Linked DNA regions of Homo sapiens: region 2 is linked to region 1. Evidence: fine-mapped expression QTL. A gene starts in region 1. The other region holds a variant in brackets. All regions are shown on one strand. Distances are from middle to middle.

Evidence for each region. PIP is the estimated chance that this variant, and not a neighbour inherited with it, causes the effect.
Region 2: its variant is fine-mapped to the expression of IGSF9B in transverse colon (GTEx, PIP 0.93).

The regions. Positions count from the first base shown.
Region 1 is chr11:133,952,708-133,961,024 of GRCh38, reverse strand. IGSF9B (immunoglobulin superfamily member 9B) reads left to right here and starts at 4,057. Exons shown (of 20, transcript NM_001277285.4): 1 at 4,057-4,334. The coding sequence starts at 4,271. RefSeq lists a silencer at 3,879-4,228.
Region 2 is chr11:133,920,627-133,928,943 of GRCh38, reverse strand. IGSF9B (immunoglobulin superfamily member 9B) reads left to right here. Exons shown (of 20, transcript NM_001277285.4): 13 at 1,853-2,028; 14 at 2,979-3,205; 15 at 4,040-4,124; 16 at 6,214-6,375; 17 at 6,722-6,767; 18 at 7,547-8,317. Among named protein-coding and RNA genes, the nearest start is that of MIR4697, 26 kb to the right of the region's middle. RefSeq lists a silencer at 1,251-1,340. The variant C/T (reference allele first, on the strand shown) is at 3,822.

The sequences.
Region 1 (8,317 bases):
ATTTTGAAGACTGTTTTCATTGCAAATTGTATCATCCAGAAATGGCTGCAACACTCTCTCCCATCCCGTAAGTTCTTCTTAAAATGTGACAGGGGCCGGGTGCGGTGGCTCACGCCTGTAATCCTAGCACTTTGGGAGGCCAAGGTGGGTGGATCACCAGGTCAGGAGTTCGAGACCAGCCTAGCCAATATGGTGAAACCCTGTCTCTACTAAAAATACAAAAATTAGCCGGATGTGGTGGCATGTGCCTGTAGGCCCAGCTACTTGGGAGGCTGAGGCAGAAGAATCACTTGAACCTGGGAGGCGGAGGTTGCAGTGAGCTGAGATTGCGCTACTGCACTCCAGCCTGGGTGACAGAGTAAGATTCCGTCTAAAAAAAAAAAAAAGTGACAGGGCCACTGTTCTATTGAGAGGTGGGGAACTGTGTCCTCTCCCTTTGAATTGGGGCAGGTTTTTGACCCTGATGGAAGTGATGCTAGGTGTCTTCCAAGGCTGGGATATGAAGGGTCATATGCCTTTCACCTGGTTCTACTGGGATGCCAGCTTTTGGAACCACCATGCTTTGAGGAAGCCCAGGCAGCCTGCAGAGAGGCCCACTTGAGGAAGAATCACAGCCCTTTGCTGGCAGCCCAGGCTAACAGCCAGCGTCAACCTGCTAGCCACGTGAGTAAGCCATCCTGAAAGGAGAAAGGTCCACACCCCAGTGGAGCTGATGCCACATGAAGTAGAGAAGAGCTGTCCTCACCAGCCAGTGTCCAAATTGCGGATTCAAGAGCAAATGAATGAGCCTTCTTGCTTTAAGCCATGATATTTTGGGCTGGGTTTTTACACGGTAAGACAACTGATACAGTTCCCTATTTATGTAAACACTAAACACGCTCTTTGGTGTTTGTGTTGAGTAAACTGCTTTTATTTAGAACTGCCTCTCCTTTTCACAAGCAGCTGTCCCAACAATTGTTCTACCCTAGATTCTGCAATGAGGGCTGGAACCACTGAGGAAGGTGAGAAGTGACAGACAAGTGAACTATTGTTTTTGAGTCCTCCTTGTTCGATGACTATGAGGAGGGAAGGAGGATAGTTTCCTCTTCTCCTACACTTGAAGCTCCTGTCAGCCCCCTTTCTCACATGTCCTCCAAAGGCCTCTGGGATGTGCAGGTAGGTGGCTACATTTGGTTTTTTTTCATAGACACACTGATAAGACTATTGTTTTGTATTTCCAAAAAGTCAGTACCTCTTAAAAGAAGATGACAGACACTCCCGTATCTGATATACATAGCATTCCTGGATATATTACTGCATTTATTAGTGACATCGATGACATTCAGGTACACCTAGGAGCTGCGCAGGGAAGTGGCTCATGTTCCTCCCTCATGTCCCTTTTGGACATCTGGGGTCCATGCTCCCCTTGAACACTCAACTGGATGTGTCTATTCTAGGAAGGGGCAACCATCCTTTCTGGGTCCAAAGCTCAGCCATACGCCAAGAGGAAAAGATTTGATCAGACTCACTCCTCACTGTAAGCTGATACAGTATATCTCTCTTTAGCTGATCTGAAACCCAGTTGAGACATGTCTAATGATGATGATGATGACGAACTTTTCCCTTTGTATCTTAATTTTCTTCCCCTTCCTCTCTGCCTTCATCCCTTGTTCCACTCTGTTTCCAGTAGAATTATCCAGAAGAAATTTGTTCTCCTCTTTAGATAGATCCTTCGAACCCCTTCCCAACCCAACTCATGTTCTAAAGCTTGTTACGTGTTTTTTTCTTTCCAATTTGACAGACACTTTTGTTGTTGTTTTTGTTTGTTTTTTAACAGGGTCTCATTCTGTCACCCAGGCTGGAGTGCAGTGGCATGATCACTGAGCCTAGAACTCCTGTGCTCAGGCAATACTCCTGCTTCAGCCTCCTGAGGAGCTGAGACTACTGGCATGAGCCTCCATGCCCGCCATCCATTCTGACAGACAGTTCTACTTTCCTAGCAGGAGGCAGAACCCTGAGTAGGACAAATGGATGGCCAGACAAAGCAATCAAGATGGGTGGTGAGAGTGGCTCCATCTTTTTCCTTGCCCTGCAGGCCCCTAGGAGAGGGTTTCTCTGAGACCTGATGTTTCCCACTCCATACCTAACAATGGTGAGGAACTAGGGCCAGGCTTTGTGGATCCGGCACTTTTCTCTAGGCCACAGTTAGCTGCTTAGAGGTTGTGGGAGGAGAAGGATCCTGTTATGACCAATTCTGCAAATGGATTCCAATATGTCTTTACAGTCCCGGGGCCCTGGGAAAGTGTGTAAGTGTGTGTGTATGTATATGTGTGTGTGTGTGTTGGGGGTGGAGTTATTCTGGGTCATGCCACCTGGAAATCACTGCATCAATGAGACCTGGAGATCACTGCATCAATGAGACCTGGAGCAGCTCACTTCATTGTCCCCAGAAAGGCATCTTTGCCCAAGAAGAGAACCAAAATCATGGCTCAGGGAGAGATGGCCCCAAGTTATGCATCTTGAGTGTGTTTGCACAGGTGGAGGGGTGGGTAGGGTAGAAGGTTATTCAACAGTCCTGGTTCTCTGGATCTATCCAGGCCCTCGACCTTTATCCATGTGCTCACTGACTGCTCTGTTGGGGGCCTCTTTCTGCCTCCCAGCTGGCGGTGAGCTAAGAGGCTTCCGGTGTCAGGGAATGCTCCACCTCCGGTGTTCAAGGCCACTTTTTGTGCATGTGTGTGTACCTGTGTGCACGCTTTCCCAGAAGCAAGTCTCCTTCTTGTTGTTTTGGGAGCTTCATGTCCTGGAGCCAGGGCTTTGTGGCTAACGAGTGCTTTGAGAGGATGAAATTCCTGAGCTCTCGCTCGCTGACCCTCTGCCTTCCTTCCTTGGCCAACAGCCCATCCCAGGGAGCGGTGTGATTCTTACCACTGCCTTCACTCCTTGAAAGAACAAACATCTTCACTGCAGCCTCTGAGCGCTGGTGTGAGGTGATTGTTTGTAGTAGATGTTTCCATGACACTCATTTATTTCTTCTGCAAATACAACTGTATTGGGGGAGGGGAAGCAGACAGGCTAGGGTAGGGAGACTGGAACATACGAAGACCTTCCAGTTTCCTATTTACATTCCTCTGTAGGATGAGAAGCTCCTTCCCTTTCCCTGGGTCTCCTCCATCCCAGACTCCTAAAGCTTCCCCCAAACCCATCTTGGTTTCATGCGGCCGAGTCGGGGCTGGGCTCCGAGTAAGGTGGAGAGGGGAGGAACCATGTGCGTGAGGAAGCAGCCTTTATCAGGAGAAGTGGGAAAAAGACCCAACTTTGACTGCTTGGAGTCGGGATTCAGTAATGATGAGCAGCAGTGACCAGCACTGGGGGTGGAGTGTGTGTGCACGAGTGTTCCTGAGGGGTCTGTGGCACTTCGCAGCTGAGCCAATGACTCACTCTAAATCTTAGCGACTTTGAGAGGTCATTTTAGTCATCCCCCGGTCTGCATCACGTTTGGAGGGGGTGGTGCGCTGCTCTGGGGACGTGTCTGGGTGCGGAGGGAGACGGGGTGGGGAGGCGGCGCGTGACCTCTTTGAAAAGATCTCCGGCGAAGGACGTTCCCCGGCTCTCCCGGGCCGCCGGCTCCTGGGTTTCCCCATCATAGAATCAGCATGGTCCTCTCGGGAACTGCTTTTTGCCGGATGGAAACCGGATGTTGGGTTCCATGAGTGGGCGGGGGCTCCACTTCCCTCAGACCTGTCCGGGGTAATTGAGACCCGCCAGGGTCCCGTTAGAAGCTACCATTTCCCTCACCAGAAACTTGCCACGCAGTGTGAGCCGAGAGAGAAGCGGGCAGAGACGCTATACCACCTTCTCCCCGGCAATGCGCATGATTCTGCGGCTCTGTGCTCGCCACACTTCAACGCACCTTGAAATGGGCTCGCCTCCTTCGCGCCGCGACGGGCGGAAGGCTGAGCCAATCGGACCCCCGGCTTGCGGGCGGCGCCCAATAGGCGGGCGGCGGGGGCGGTTCCGGAGGCCCGGCCCGGCTAGGCTTCACCGTGGACCTGGCTGCGCTCCGCCCGGGCGAGTAGTGCAGGTGCCGCTGCGCCGGGGCCGGGGAGGCGCGCGCCGAGCCGAGCGGAGCCTAGGAGGGATGGAGAGCTGGCCACCCGGGCTGCAGGAGCACCGGCGCGGGGCGTAGGCGGCGCGAGGCGGGCGCGAGGCGGGCGCTCGGGCGCGAGGCGCGTGCGGGCGCGGGAGCACTTTGCGATAGGATGAGGCTCCGGGCTGGCGCGGTAGTACTATGATTTGGTATGTGGCCACTTTCATAGCAAGTGTGATCGGCACCCGAGGGCTTGCGGCTGAAGGTGAGTTGAAGTGCGGCGTCCCTCCCCTGCCCCTCCCGGCGCCCTCGGCCCCTCGCGCCCGGCCCCTCGGTTTCCCGGCTCCTTGGCCCCCCGGTTCCCCAGCTCCCCGGCGCGCCTTCCCGCGGGTGAGGCTTGGGCTCCGACGCGGGCCAGGCGGCCCGGGAGCATTGCCGGGGAGGGCCTGGGGGCCGTGGGCTGGAGGGGCGGGCGGGAAGGGGCCAGAGCCCACGGGCTGCCGGGCACTCGGGGAAAGGACGCAGTGGAACCTGGGTCGACTTCGCCCACCACGGGCCCCACGGTGCACACCGGCGCGCCTAGCCCGTCGCCTCCTGCCCGGCGGCCGCCTCCCAGAGCTGCGGGAAACTCTGGCTGCGGGAGTTTGCGGTCTCCGGGCAGGCTGCAGCACGCTAGAGCCCCGCGCCGCGAGGAGCGCCTGCAGGGAGGCGCGACCCGGAGGATCCCTGGGACTGGCGGCACCCGCGTCTAAGGCCCCGGGTTCGCGCGGCCCTGCGGGCGTCCATCGCTCCGCTCGCGCCCCTCCTGCCCACACATCTTGGCAGCTGGAGGTCGGATCCCCCTAGCAGGGGCGCCCGGTGAGAGGAGGATTGATGAGGCCAGCTTCGAGGTGTGTCCGCTTTTGGCTGGACCCCGCCGGCCCCCGCGCCTCTCAGCCGCACCTGGGCCCCGGCCAGGCAAAAGTTCCCCGGGAGCGCGCCGCAGCCGCGCGGGCCCCACGCCGCCCTCCCCAGGCTGCGAGGCAGAGCTGGCTGGGGGCGGCGGCGGGGGAGGGGAGGGGCGGGGAAGGGGGGGTCCCCACGCTGTGAATCCGAGCGGAGGGGGGATTTTCTCTTTCCGCTTTCCTGGGTCTGAGCTGGGGGAGACGCAAGGGGGGAGCCACCGAGTTGGGTGATGCGTGCGTGAGCGCGCGGGCTTTTGCTTTGGAGATGGGCAGAGCGACCTACAAGCCTCTGGGTGGCACCCCCGGCTCTCGGCCCTTGTATGGAAGTGGGAGCGGAGCCTGGAGGGTGCCAGGACTGTGAGCTCAGGGCTGTCAGCGCGCAGACACGACCCGGCTGCGGGCAAGTTCACCAAGCCGGAGGAGATGGCGGCGGGAGAGAACCCGCTGTGGGTGGGAGTCAGCAGGCAGGACTCGCCGACAGAGAACCCTCTCCCAGCGGCATGGGGCGCCGGGTGGGCTGGAGGCGCCTCTCACGGGGTCCCCTCGTCACTCGTCTGTGCAGGGGGGCGTGCTTCAGGAAACTTTCCGGAATGGAATGAATATGTCGCCTCTGCTTCTGAGGGGGGTGGTGGTGTCTGAAAACAGAACGAGCAGAGGGCGAAGCGAAGGGTGATTTTGTTAACTGACATGTTGGTCCGGACGGTTTTAAAACTCTTCATTTGTCAGGTGGGAACACTGAGGCAAGGGTGATGGCGGAAGCTTACGGAACGGGGGGTGGATGTGAGGTGCATCGGGCTGCGCTTGACAGTCTGCCTGTAGCCTCATCCTCTCCCCCATTTCCTTGCCGTCTTCCAATGCCCGCATCCTCCTCCCCTCCCGTTTTTGGTATGTTCCTGCTATGGGACTGTCCCTGAAAGCACAAAAGGATGAGCTGGGATCTTTGAATAGAAAAGAGACGCTGAAGGAAGGCTCTGAAATAGCCTCCGAACCTAAGTCAGGGTGGGCAATGGACTTCTTTGCAAGTTTCAGCCCAGAATAAAGGAATGTGAGTTTATACTGCAGCAACACGCAGAATCGCAAGATAGAAGGAAGGGCTTCCCAAAATTGAAGGCTGCCTGGCATGAAGGTTATGCCCTCTTTCAGGGTGCAGAGGGGTCCTTCTGTCTGGAATGGCTGGACATGTACCCCTGTCTGGAAGCAGAGGGTGACCTTGCTGGTCTTGGGGTCTTTCTTAGCCTCAATTGCTCTGTGTGTGGTAGTTAAGGACCTAGGTCTAGAGCCATATGACTGGGATTCAGATTCTGGCTGTGTCACCTGCCGACCCTGTGACCTTGGACAAATTCTCAACCTCTCTAAATGTCACTTGCTTCAATAGAAAATGTGCCAATAGCATGTACTTTTAGGGTTTTTAGGTGGACATGAGTGTTATAAGGAAACAAAACAACTACCTGTTATATAGTACGTGCTCAGTAAACATTAACATTATTTTCTCAGTGTCCCTGGGATTCCAAGATCCTCCTCAATTTCTTTCCCTTGGGCCATTCAGGGCACTAGGAGCTGAGAATGTGTTGCGGGGAAGTTCAGAAGGCTGCCTGTGTCAGGAAGTAAGACCCCTTTCTGGGCTGACCTTGTCTGGGCAGAACCTCTTGTCCCTGGCATCCCAGGGACACGTGTGCAGGATGTGCGGGCCTCAAAGCTGCTCGGAAGTCCTTTGCAAGGTCTCCAAAGCTGGAGTGTTGTTGGTGGCCAGAGGTTTATGGAAGGACACAGCCCGGGAAGTGAGGGCTTGCAACACACAGCCTCTGGAGAGAGCGGGTGGGCGCCCGCTCGTGTGAGCAGCACCAGCCAGTGTCCACATGCTGCTGAGTCTCCCTGTGAGAGCTCAGCTGTTCCCTGACTGGCAGAGGTGACTTCTGGGGCAGTCCCTCAGCAGGAGGGACTTTGAGATGCCACCCTTAGGATTTGGCCATAGCAGGGGCTGCTCTGGCAGAGGGGGAAAGGGATGATGTTGTGTTGGGACCCGACTCCATCAGCCCTCGGGTGCGGGACAGAGGTTGGAATGGGCTCCTCCTTTTGACTTTGAGTGTGTGTGCCTGGGAGGTGATTAAGGTCAGTGGACAGGTTGGGGAAGTGTGGAGAAGAGAGGGGCTGGAGTGGTACCCAGAACCTGGAAGACAGTGATTGGTGTGCACTCAGTATCTCAGACGGCTGCTGAGCCAGCCCGGGGGAGTTCCTACTCTGTGGGAGGACCCTGGGCCGTGCTTAGCTGATTGTGGACCTTGGATAGGGGAGGAAAGTCCCAGACTTTACTCCCACGGCTGCCTCCTCTGTCTGCCACAGATTCTGTCGTTACATTATCCCTGACTACAGTGTCCCCAAATACAGTGAGGTTCTGACTCAGATCCTGCTGGTAGTTGGGCCATTGCCCTCTACTTTCTACCTGGCCTTGACCTATGCTTCCTTTTGGTAATGAAGATGGGAGGGTGGAGGTTTGGACTCAGAGGTTGCTATCAAGACCCCGTGGTGAGCCTATCGGCTGAGAAGGACTTCACTCAGGAAGTGGTCAGTGGCTGGATGGATGTGTGTGTGTATCCTCAGCACACACATGCTGGGGACAGGAGTGTGTCTGGCAGCCTGTGCCCTGTGGGAAGCTGGGGAGACGGGGATGTGAGAAGGGCTTGGCTGAGGGGCAGAGGGCAATCAGCTTTCAGCCGCGGGCCTGTGGCCCTGCATGTGCTGGTCCTGGAGTTGCAGGGTCCTAGATAGACCTTGAGTGGTTTCGTGTTTATGGCTCTGAGACAGAAGGCTGGAATCTGGTTACAGAGGAGCAGAGGCTGCCTCGCTGGAAGATTCTGAGCCCCAGCATCACTCTGGCCCTCACTCCAACCTCCTGTACCTTTGCCTTCTCCCCAGCCAGGGTGCTGGCTGTGTCTTCTTCCTTGGCCCTCTCTTCCTCAGCCCTGCTGGGTGCTTCAAGATGTGGGGGTGGGAGATAAGCTCCAAAGAGGGCTGGGCCTGAGATTTAAGGTAGCTCTCTTCTCCACATCCTGTGGCCTTCTCAGGTTGGGGTGCAGAGTACTTAGGGAGCGGTCCCCTTCCACCTGCTTCCTAGAAGAGGTGAAGCAGCTTGTGTGAAGAGTGGATCTGAATGGTCAAAGAGCTGCAACTGCTGAGAGCTTCCAGCTGTCCAGAAGTGTGTGTGTGTGCACATGCATACATGTGCACATGTGTGTGCGCATACACACATGTTCCTATATGTGTACATATGTGTGTGCCCCTGCATGTGTGCATATATGTGCCCCTG
Region 2 (8,317 bases), 32 kb after region 1:
GGTGTGGAGAGGTGATGCTCACTTCCCAGCCTTGGGGTCAGCCCCTGCATTTTCTCTCTAGGACCATGTGTTTCTCGATTGTTTTCATTCCTCTGTTGTCAGTTTAGCCAGATGCAGTCATATGAGGTCTTTGCGCAAACCTTAGGGTAGATACAGATCTCAAAAATGTGCCAAGCGGGGTGAGGGCAGGAGGCACAGGAAGGGAGGAGAAGGAAGCCTAGCTGACTCCTCCCACCCCCAAGGGCTGCCCCTCCCTACACTCCTGTTTGAGTAAGAGTGGCAGCCACCTGCCCTGCCCCGGGGGTGACAACCTTGAGCTGGGAGGGCGAGCCCCTCAGTGCCTTCTTTTAGACCTGTCTCACCTGCAGGTGTCTCTCTAGCCAGGCTCAACTCGAGGAGGGGGAGCTCGAGGGGAGGGGGAAAAGGCAGGCACCTGGGGCAGCTCAGGGGGTTCAGGGAGACCCCTTTATCCACTTCTCAGCAGCGAGGGAAGTTGAGAGGGGCACCCGCTCTGTCTCCCATCATGGTGGTTCGGTGGCTGCTTCCCGGGCGGAGTGTCCTGGGTGTCTTGATTCTGATTGGAGAACTGCACCTGGATGATGGGAGTTGCCGCAGCTCACCTCCCGTCCCCTTACTCTGTTCCTCCCGCAGCAGCGTGGGGGCCCTAACCAGCCTGCCCGGTGGCTGCTGGGAGACCGGTGCTGCTCAGCGCCTAGGTGTCCAGGGTGGGACATTTGGTGTGGTCAAGCTGTCTTTGGAGATGCCTGGGTGGGAGGTCTGGGCATACGATGGGGGGCTCAGGTGTAGATTGGGGCTCCCCTGCTGCTTGCGGTGCTGCTTCACGCTGCTGCTCCACGCTGCTGCTCATCTGCACTGCTTTTCCACACGTGGCTCCTCGCTGCTTTGTTGCCTGGGCCAGGGAAGGGCGGGGCCGAGGTTGGGGAGGTCTCCTTTCTTTCTGCCTGCCTCTAACTCTGTGCACTGACTCCGACGTTTGGCGCCGGCTTCTTTTTGTACTGCTTTCCGCTGCCTCATCTCACCCTCCTGGGCGTGCACGGTAGTGAGCCGGGACCCGGGAGTGGATCCTGGAGGGCACCCACCAGGTTACAGCTCAGGGCTGCAAGGAGAGGGCCAGTCCCACAGGACCATGTCTCCTCCCTGTGGTGACGTGGCAGCACTGCACCCATAGCCCTCCGGCTTTGCTGGGAGTTGGGAGCCTGTGGAACAAGGGAACACCCTCGGCCCGTCTTCCTACTCTCCATGCATAGCGTGACCTTCTTCCAACCCTTACGGCCTTAGGGATCCTGGCCCCACTGTGGGGAAACCCCTGGTCATTATGGTCTTATACCCTGGACATCTCAGGTGACTCCAGTCTGATTGGATGAATGAGCCCTGTGGGTTACCCGAGGCCCTACTTCAGCTGTCCCTGGGGGTGTGTGCAGCCAGGTCCTGGGCTCCTTCCCTCATCCTGCCACTGTTGAGCCGCTTATCCCCATACCCCAGAGCCTTACTCTCCCAAGGCAGAGCTTGTTCTTAGGGTTGTGACCAGGGTGGGATTCTCCCACAATGCAGCTGGTAATCCATCTGACCAGTGTCCTGAGCACGACTTGCACCTAAAGGCCCCTTTGGTAGAAAAGATGCCAGCTGTGGTTGGTGACCCAGCATCAGGAGGATTGGCACAGCCAAAGCTGGGCAGGGCATCCACTCTGGGCCATGCCCTCTTCTTGCCCTTGAACCTAGGAACGCCAGGCCCACCAGTGCCTTCTCCCTGAGCACCCTGCATGCACCCTCTTCTCTCCAGTGTGACCCACCCCGCCCCTCGTCCCCTATCCTGTCTCTCTCTTTTGGCCAGGATGAAGCGGGCACAGTTTGGGCCCCATGACTGGCTGTCCTTGCCAGTGCCGCCAGGACCCAGCTGGCTGCTGGTGGACACCCTGGAGCCTGAGACAGCGTACCAGTTCAGCGTCCTGGCCCAGAACAAGCTGGGAACCAGCGCCTTCAGTGAGGTGGTCACTGTGAACACTTTAGGTGAGGGCCCGGGGTGGGATGTTGGGAGCGGGGGTTGTAGAGGTGGTGGGGGCGGTGGCCCAGGCAGCTATAGCAGTCGGCCTCCTGTGTGCCGGTACCTTGCTGAGTGCTCCACAGAGCCGTGCCATCTGATCTCCCCGTGAGGATTTGTTGTGGTCTCTGTGGGGTTTGCTGGTCCTGCATCAGAGTGCCATTGGCCGAATTCCTGTTGCTTTTTCAGGTGGAAGAAAGACACTTAGAATTTTCTCTTTCCTTGTCAGGCCACATGTTTGCTTTCAGGGGAGATTGGGCATCCTCCCTCCTTGGCAGCGCCTGCCGGTTCTGGCCTCTGGCCCCAGCGTCACTGGGCGGTAGGCATGTGGCTGCCTCCCGCTGCAGAGTCTTCCAGGCCACCTTCCTGGAGGCAGCCTCATACTCCTCCCTGCCTGGCCACAGTTGTGTTTGCTCTGCTCTGGAGCCAGAGAAAGGGCCACTGTGAACAGGCTTTTCCTAGGTGGTGTAGGTGGCGCGACTCCAGCCCCTTTCCCAGAATCCGCTCCTGAGCGGCCGCCAAGGTGGACAGCAGTCTGGGATGCTCACCCCCAGTCCTTGGCACCTCTGTGGGGCCTTGTGTTGACCCCCAAACCCCGGCCAAGAAGGGAATGGAAAGAGTGACTGCTGTGCTGTGAGAAAGAAGATATCCCTAGCTCCCTGGAAGAGCACAGGAGATACTTTGATGACATTTAATTATTCCTCCTTCCCCATAGTTCCCATTTCTCTTCCCTTTTGCAGTACACGATTCCCTCATGTATGTTTAGACGTACTCTGAAGGCAGAACCCTGAAGCCCTGGGCCCCGGGCCCTGACTCTGCTTCCCTCTGGGCCCTGACATGTGCACAGGAGTGTGGGGGGTGCGGTGGCTGCCCTGGGCCTCGCTGATGCGCTGTGGTTCTTCTCCTTCCCCCGCCGCAGCATTCCCTATTACAACTCCAGAACCCCTGGTGCTGGTCACCCCACCGAGGTGCCTCATAGCCAATCGGACTCAGCAGGGTGTGCTCCTGTCCTGGCTTCCGCCTGCCAACCACAGCTTTCCCATCGACCGCTACATCATGGAGTTCCGTGTCGCAGAGCGCTGGGAGTTGCTCGACGATGGCATCCCCGGCACCGAAGGAGAGTTCTTTGCCAAGGATCTGTCACAGGTGAGGGCTTTGCTCTTCCTTGCTGCTGCTTCCCAAATCCGGGAAGCGACAAGACTCTAGAGGCACTGGAAGCTTTGAGTGACCAACTTTGGGTGTGTGAGGCCAGCCACATCCTGTACCTCCTCACCACTGGTCCTGGATTCTCCCAGACTCGCTACCAAGGCCTGGACTCCTCAGATCATGGCCCACAGGCTCGGGGCCAGCTCTGGGGCAGCGGGGACCTGTGTTCTACTGAGGGTCCCGGCACCGCTACAAGCTGGGCAGGGCAGGCTGAGAGGCCAGCAGGCGTAATCAGAGCACTGACCCCAGCCCTTGCTGAGCCTAACCTGGGGTGGGCAGAGAAGTTCCAAGAAGAATTCTCTTCTAGGTGTGTCCAGGGAAGAACCCCTTCTCCAGTAATTTAGAGCTCCTGGAAGAAAGTGCATTATCTCTTTTTCCAGTAGCTCCGTTAAACTTGGATATCTAGCTGGGGAGAGGAAGCAGCTGGTTTCCTAAGATACAGTCTCATCTATCTTTCTGTCTTCCTTCCTGGACACTTATTTATCAATAGTGGTTGCTGGAGTCGGCTCCCAGTGGCCCTGGAGAGCCTGTTGTACATATCTCTTCCCAACGCTTT[C/T]GGTGACCTCACGTTCGTAGCTTGAAGTCAGCCATTGTAAGAGTGTTTACACCACAGCAATTGGCCAGTGCTACCATCGCTTAGCATTAGACACTTAGCAGTCCTCCTGTGCTTTGGGTGCCCTGCCCTTTGCAAGGCTGTGTGCAGGATGAGTGTGTGAGGGGACAGTGGTCATCTCAGGTCCCTCGGCTGACTGGGTATTGTCCCTGGGGCTGCAGGACACGTGGTATGAGTTCCGGGTTCTGGCCGTCATGCAGGATCTGATCAGCGAGCCCAGCAACATCGCCGGCGTCTCCAGCACAGGTATTTTGGGTTGAGGGTGCTCTTGCAACTATAGGGACATAAGCCCCAGAGCTGCATGGGGGTCATTTTGTGAAATGGCTACTCCACGAGGAGAAGCTGGATTGGAAACTAAGGCAGTGCCTGGTTGCAGCTGCGTGAGTCATAGCCTTTCTTAAGCCCACCAGACCCATATTTCCATGATGCATGCTATTTCGTGAAGCTCAGAAGCTGAGTTTCTGACACTTGTATAAGACAGCCACAGAAAGAAATTCAACTAATCTTCTCATTATAGTAGTCAAAAAGGACTTGATTGAAGTGCTATTTGCTGTACATTTTCAGTTTCCTCTTGTCGGGGAGGGGCTGTGAATCGGAGGAAACAACAGGTCAACCATGTTTATCAAATGCTTGTGATAGACTTCTTTATAATTATGTGGGTTTTATTTGGAAAATTGTTGTTTGGTGTTTTCCTCCCTTCCTTCCTCTCTCTAGATTTTTAAGGCTAAATAAAGCCAATTCCCTAGCATTTTCTCCATTTATCTTTCTTTCTCTTGGCCCTGGTCCCATTTCTACACATCTTCTCTCCAGCTATAGTTCCTGAGACATAGCAGGTTCCTCCGCCAGTGAAGGGGTGTCCTTGGTATGGGAAAAGGCTCTTGCTTATAAGCAAGTGATGGCATCATTTCCTTGGGCACCGCTCACCCAGAGTCCCCTGGGACCAGGTGACAGTGACCTCGTCTGAGGAGCTCATGCAGCAGGACTTGTAGAGTTGGGGAAGTGCTGGTGTGGGCACACTGCAGGGAGCACGAGAGCAGGGGCAGGTGTGGAGTGCAATTTCTGCTTTATACATTAGGCATCAATGGGCTTTAAAAAAAAAAGGTTGTGTCCTACAGGTAGCAGAACCCACAGTCTTTCTTGACTTCTCTGTGGGGAATAGACTCAGAGTTGGAGGAACAGGGATGAGAGCTTGCATCCAAGGCTGGAGCTGAAGAAGGGGTGTTGTGTGGGCCCACCCCTGACCATTCTGTGCTCAGTAGCTCTATGCCAGCTCCTGGCAGGAAATGTGCCTCGTCAGACACTTCCACACAGGGGAAGGAGGAGGCAGCAGCCTCAGCATTCCCTGTATTAGGTCCCCCATTTCCAAAGGCTGTAGCTTTCATTTTCCCCTCAGACAATCAGCATCATCTGGATTATTTTTATCCATTATTATTATCGATGCAGCAATGAATTCTGGCCAAATACGTTACAATCTATCGATTCTGCCTTTGCTGAACCTAAGCAGTGGCACTTACCGACACAACTTTCCTATGAGTATAAGATGGTAGGCTGGTGTCTAGTCTTGGCTCGGTCATAACGAGCTCTGTAGACTTGGGCAGGAAAGGAGGACGTTCAGCTCCTTATGGTGAAACGAGAGATTTGGCTCCATCTCTGCTGTCCCTGCCAGCTCTAGGGTACTTCCGTACCTGAGATGACCAGGATGCGAATCTTCAGGACGTTGCATGCCTGTACTAGAAGGGGAGAGGATCTGAATTTTGTAGTAATAATCCCTCTTCCTGCAGTCGTATTTTATCCTCAAGTTGCCTTCACACCTGGGCTCTCCTTTTGTAGAGACACTGGTGTGAGGCAGGAAATCCCAGACTGGGAGCAGGCAGCTGCGTTCTGGTTTGGGCACTGATGGCAATATCCACGTAAGCGGGTCTCTCTAACCCAGTGGATCAGAGCTCTTTCATTTAGAGAATGAGAACAGTATGTGTGCTCTGTGTAGCTCATGGGGTTAACATGAGAAGAGCTGATAACGTGCATGAAGGTGCTTTGCAGAAGGCAAAACCCTAGATAAGTATAGATTACTCTTGAAGTCATTATCCCCATGGGGACAGGCATAGATGTTTTCTTCTTTACACCCTTTGGAGAGATTGACTTCTGTAGACTCTCCTCTCTTCTTCCTCTTCGTGACGCCATCCAAACCTCTTCAGTGCTAGAGTTCAGCTTGGAGCCCGAGCCTTGACACTGTCTGTTCTACAAAGGCAGGGTGAAACACTTGGGGACTGAAGGTCGGAGCAGGTGAGGTCCCGGGGAAGGATGGGCTCATGAGTGCTCCCCACCCTCCCTGCAGACATCTTCCCGCAGCCGGACCTGACCGAGGATGGGCTGGCGCGGCCTGTGCTGGCGGGAATCGTAGCTACCATCTGCTTCTTGGCAGCTGCCATCCTGTTCAGCACCCTGGCTGCCTGCTTTGTCAACAAGCAGCGCAAGCGTAAGCTCAAGCGCAAAAAAGGTGGGTGTCTGTCCCCTTCCCTTGCTCTCCCTGGCCCGGTTTCAAATGCCCCCCATCAAGAGAGGTGGACCATTTTTAGCATGGCCCCCCTTGGAAATAGGGACATTGAGATCTTGTGGGTAGAGCTGCCAGTGAGACTTGATTTGAAAGTGGGGGTAAGAAGCAGGGGTGGTGGGGAGAGGCTGCTGGGGCCCAAGCTAGCATGAAGGCAGGGGCCAAAGATGCCCACTGTGAGCAGCTCCTTCCCTGTGCGGTGGTGCTCCGGCTCTGTCAGCCTCTGCAGATGCGCGTGCTGCGTGGTTGCTGGCTTGGCCTCAGCAGCCTCTCCCCTTCTCTTTCCTTCCAGACCCTCCACTCTCCATCACCCACTGCAGGAAGAGCCTGGAGTCTCCGTAAGTGTCTCAGATCCTGGGAGAATTGTGCTGTTCATGGCAGGGGGCGCATAGGTAGACCGCTCGCCTTACCCAGCCCCATGTTAGTGTTTCTAAGCCATTTCTTCTTGATTGACCTGTGTGTTAATTGTACTTGCCCAGCCCCATCTCAGTGTTTCTAAGCCATTTCTTCTTGATTGACCTGTGTGTTAATTGTAAGTTGTCCACGCTGGTAGAGGGAGTGGCAGTGCAGATGATCCAAATTAGCCAGTAATCAGTTTCTCTTCAGCCTTGGAATGTATTTCTTTAGTGTTTTCCCACCCTAGCAGATTTGCCTCCTTAATATGTGTTGCTTAAGTTGATATTAAAGTGAGCTTGCTTGTCTTGAAAAGAGGGGAATGAAGCTGGAGGTGTGCTTAGAGCACAGCAGAGAGGGGGCAGGCCAGCACAAAAGTGAAGAGGCGGGTGTTCACTGGAAAGACGGATGATGGGGGGGGCCGGGCGCGGCGGCTCACACCTGTAATCCTGGCACTTTGGGAGGCTGAGGCAGGAGGATTGCTTGAGGCCAGGAGTTCAAGACCAGTCTGGGCAACATAGCAAGACCCCGTCTTTAAAAAAAAAAGGAGGATTCACGTCCAGACGGTGGAGAGTTGGCCAAAGCATTTCACACCACGATACACAGCCAGTTTTCTTGAGCGTGAGGATCCTGGGTGCTGGGTGGTTGCCGAGAGAGGGAAAGGAAGTCCTGGCCAGCACACTGCCCCACCTCATCCCCTCCCGGCTCTTGCTCCTCCTTGCAGCTTGTCCTCTGGCAAGGTGAGCCCCGAGAGCATCCGCACGCTCCGAGCGCCGTCAGAATCCTCCGACGACCAGGGCCAGCCCGCGGCCAAGAGGATGCTGAGCCCCACCCGTGAGAAGGAGCTGTCGCTGTACAAGAAGACCAAGCGGGCCATCAGCAGCAAGAAGTACAGCGTGGCCAAGGCAGAGGCCGAGGCAGAGGCCACCACGCCCATCGAGCTCATCAGCAGAGGCCCTGACGGCCGCTTCGTGATGGACCCTGCCGAGATGGAGCCCTCGCTGAAGAGCAGGCGCATCGAGGGCTTCCCCTTCGCCGAGGAGACGGACATGTACCCCGAGTTCCGCCAGTCGGACGAGGAGAACGAGGACCCACTGGTGCCCACATCTGTGGCCGCCCTGAAGTCCCAGCTCACCCCTCTGTCATCCAGCCAGGAGTCCTACCTGCCACCACCAGCATACAGCCCTCGGTTCCAGCCCCGCGGGCTGGAGGGCCCCGGTGGCCTGGAAGGTCGGCTTCAGGCCACAGGCCAGGCCCGGCCCCCTGCCCCCCGGCCCTTCCACCATGGCCAGTATTATGGGTACCTCAGCAGCAGCAGCCCTGGGGAGGTGGAGCCGCCCCCGTTCTACGTGCCAGAAGTGGGCAGCCCCCTGAGCTCCGTCATGTCGTCCCCGCCCCTGCCCACCGAGGGGCCCTTTGGCCACCCCACCATCCCCGAGGAGAATGGAGAGAATGCATCCAACAGCACGCTGCCCTTGACTCAGACACCTACAGG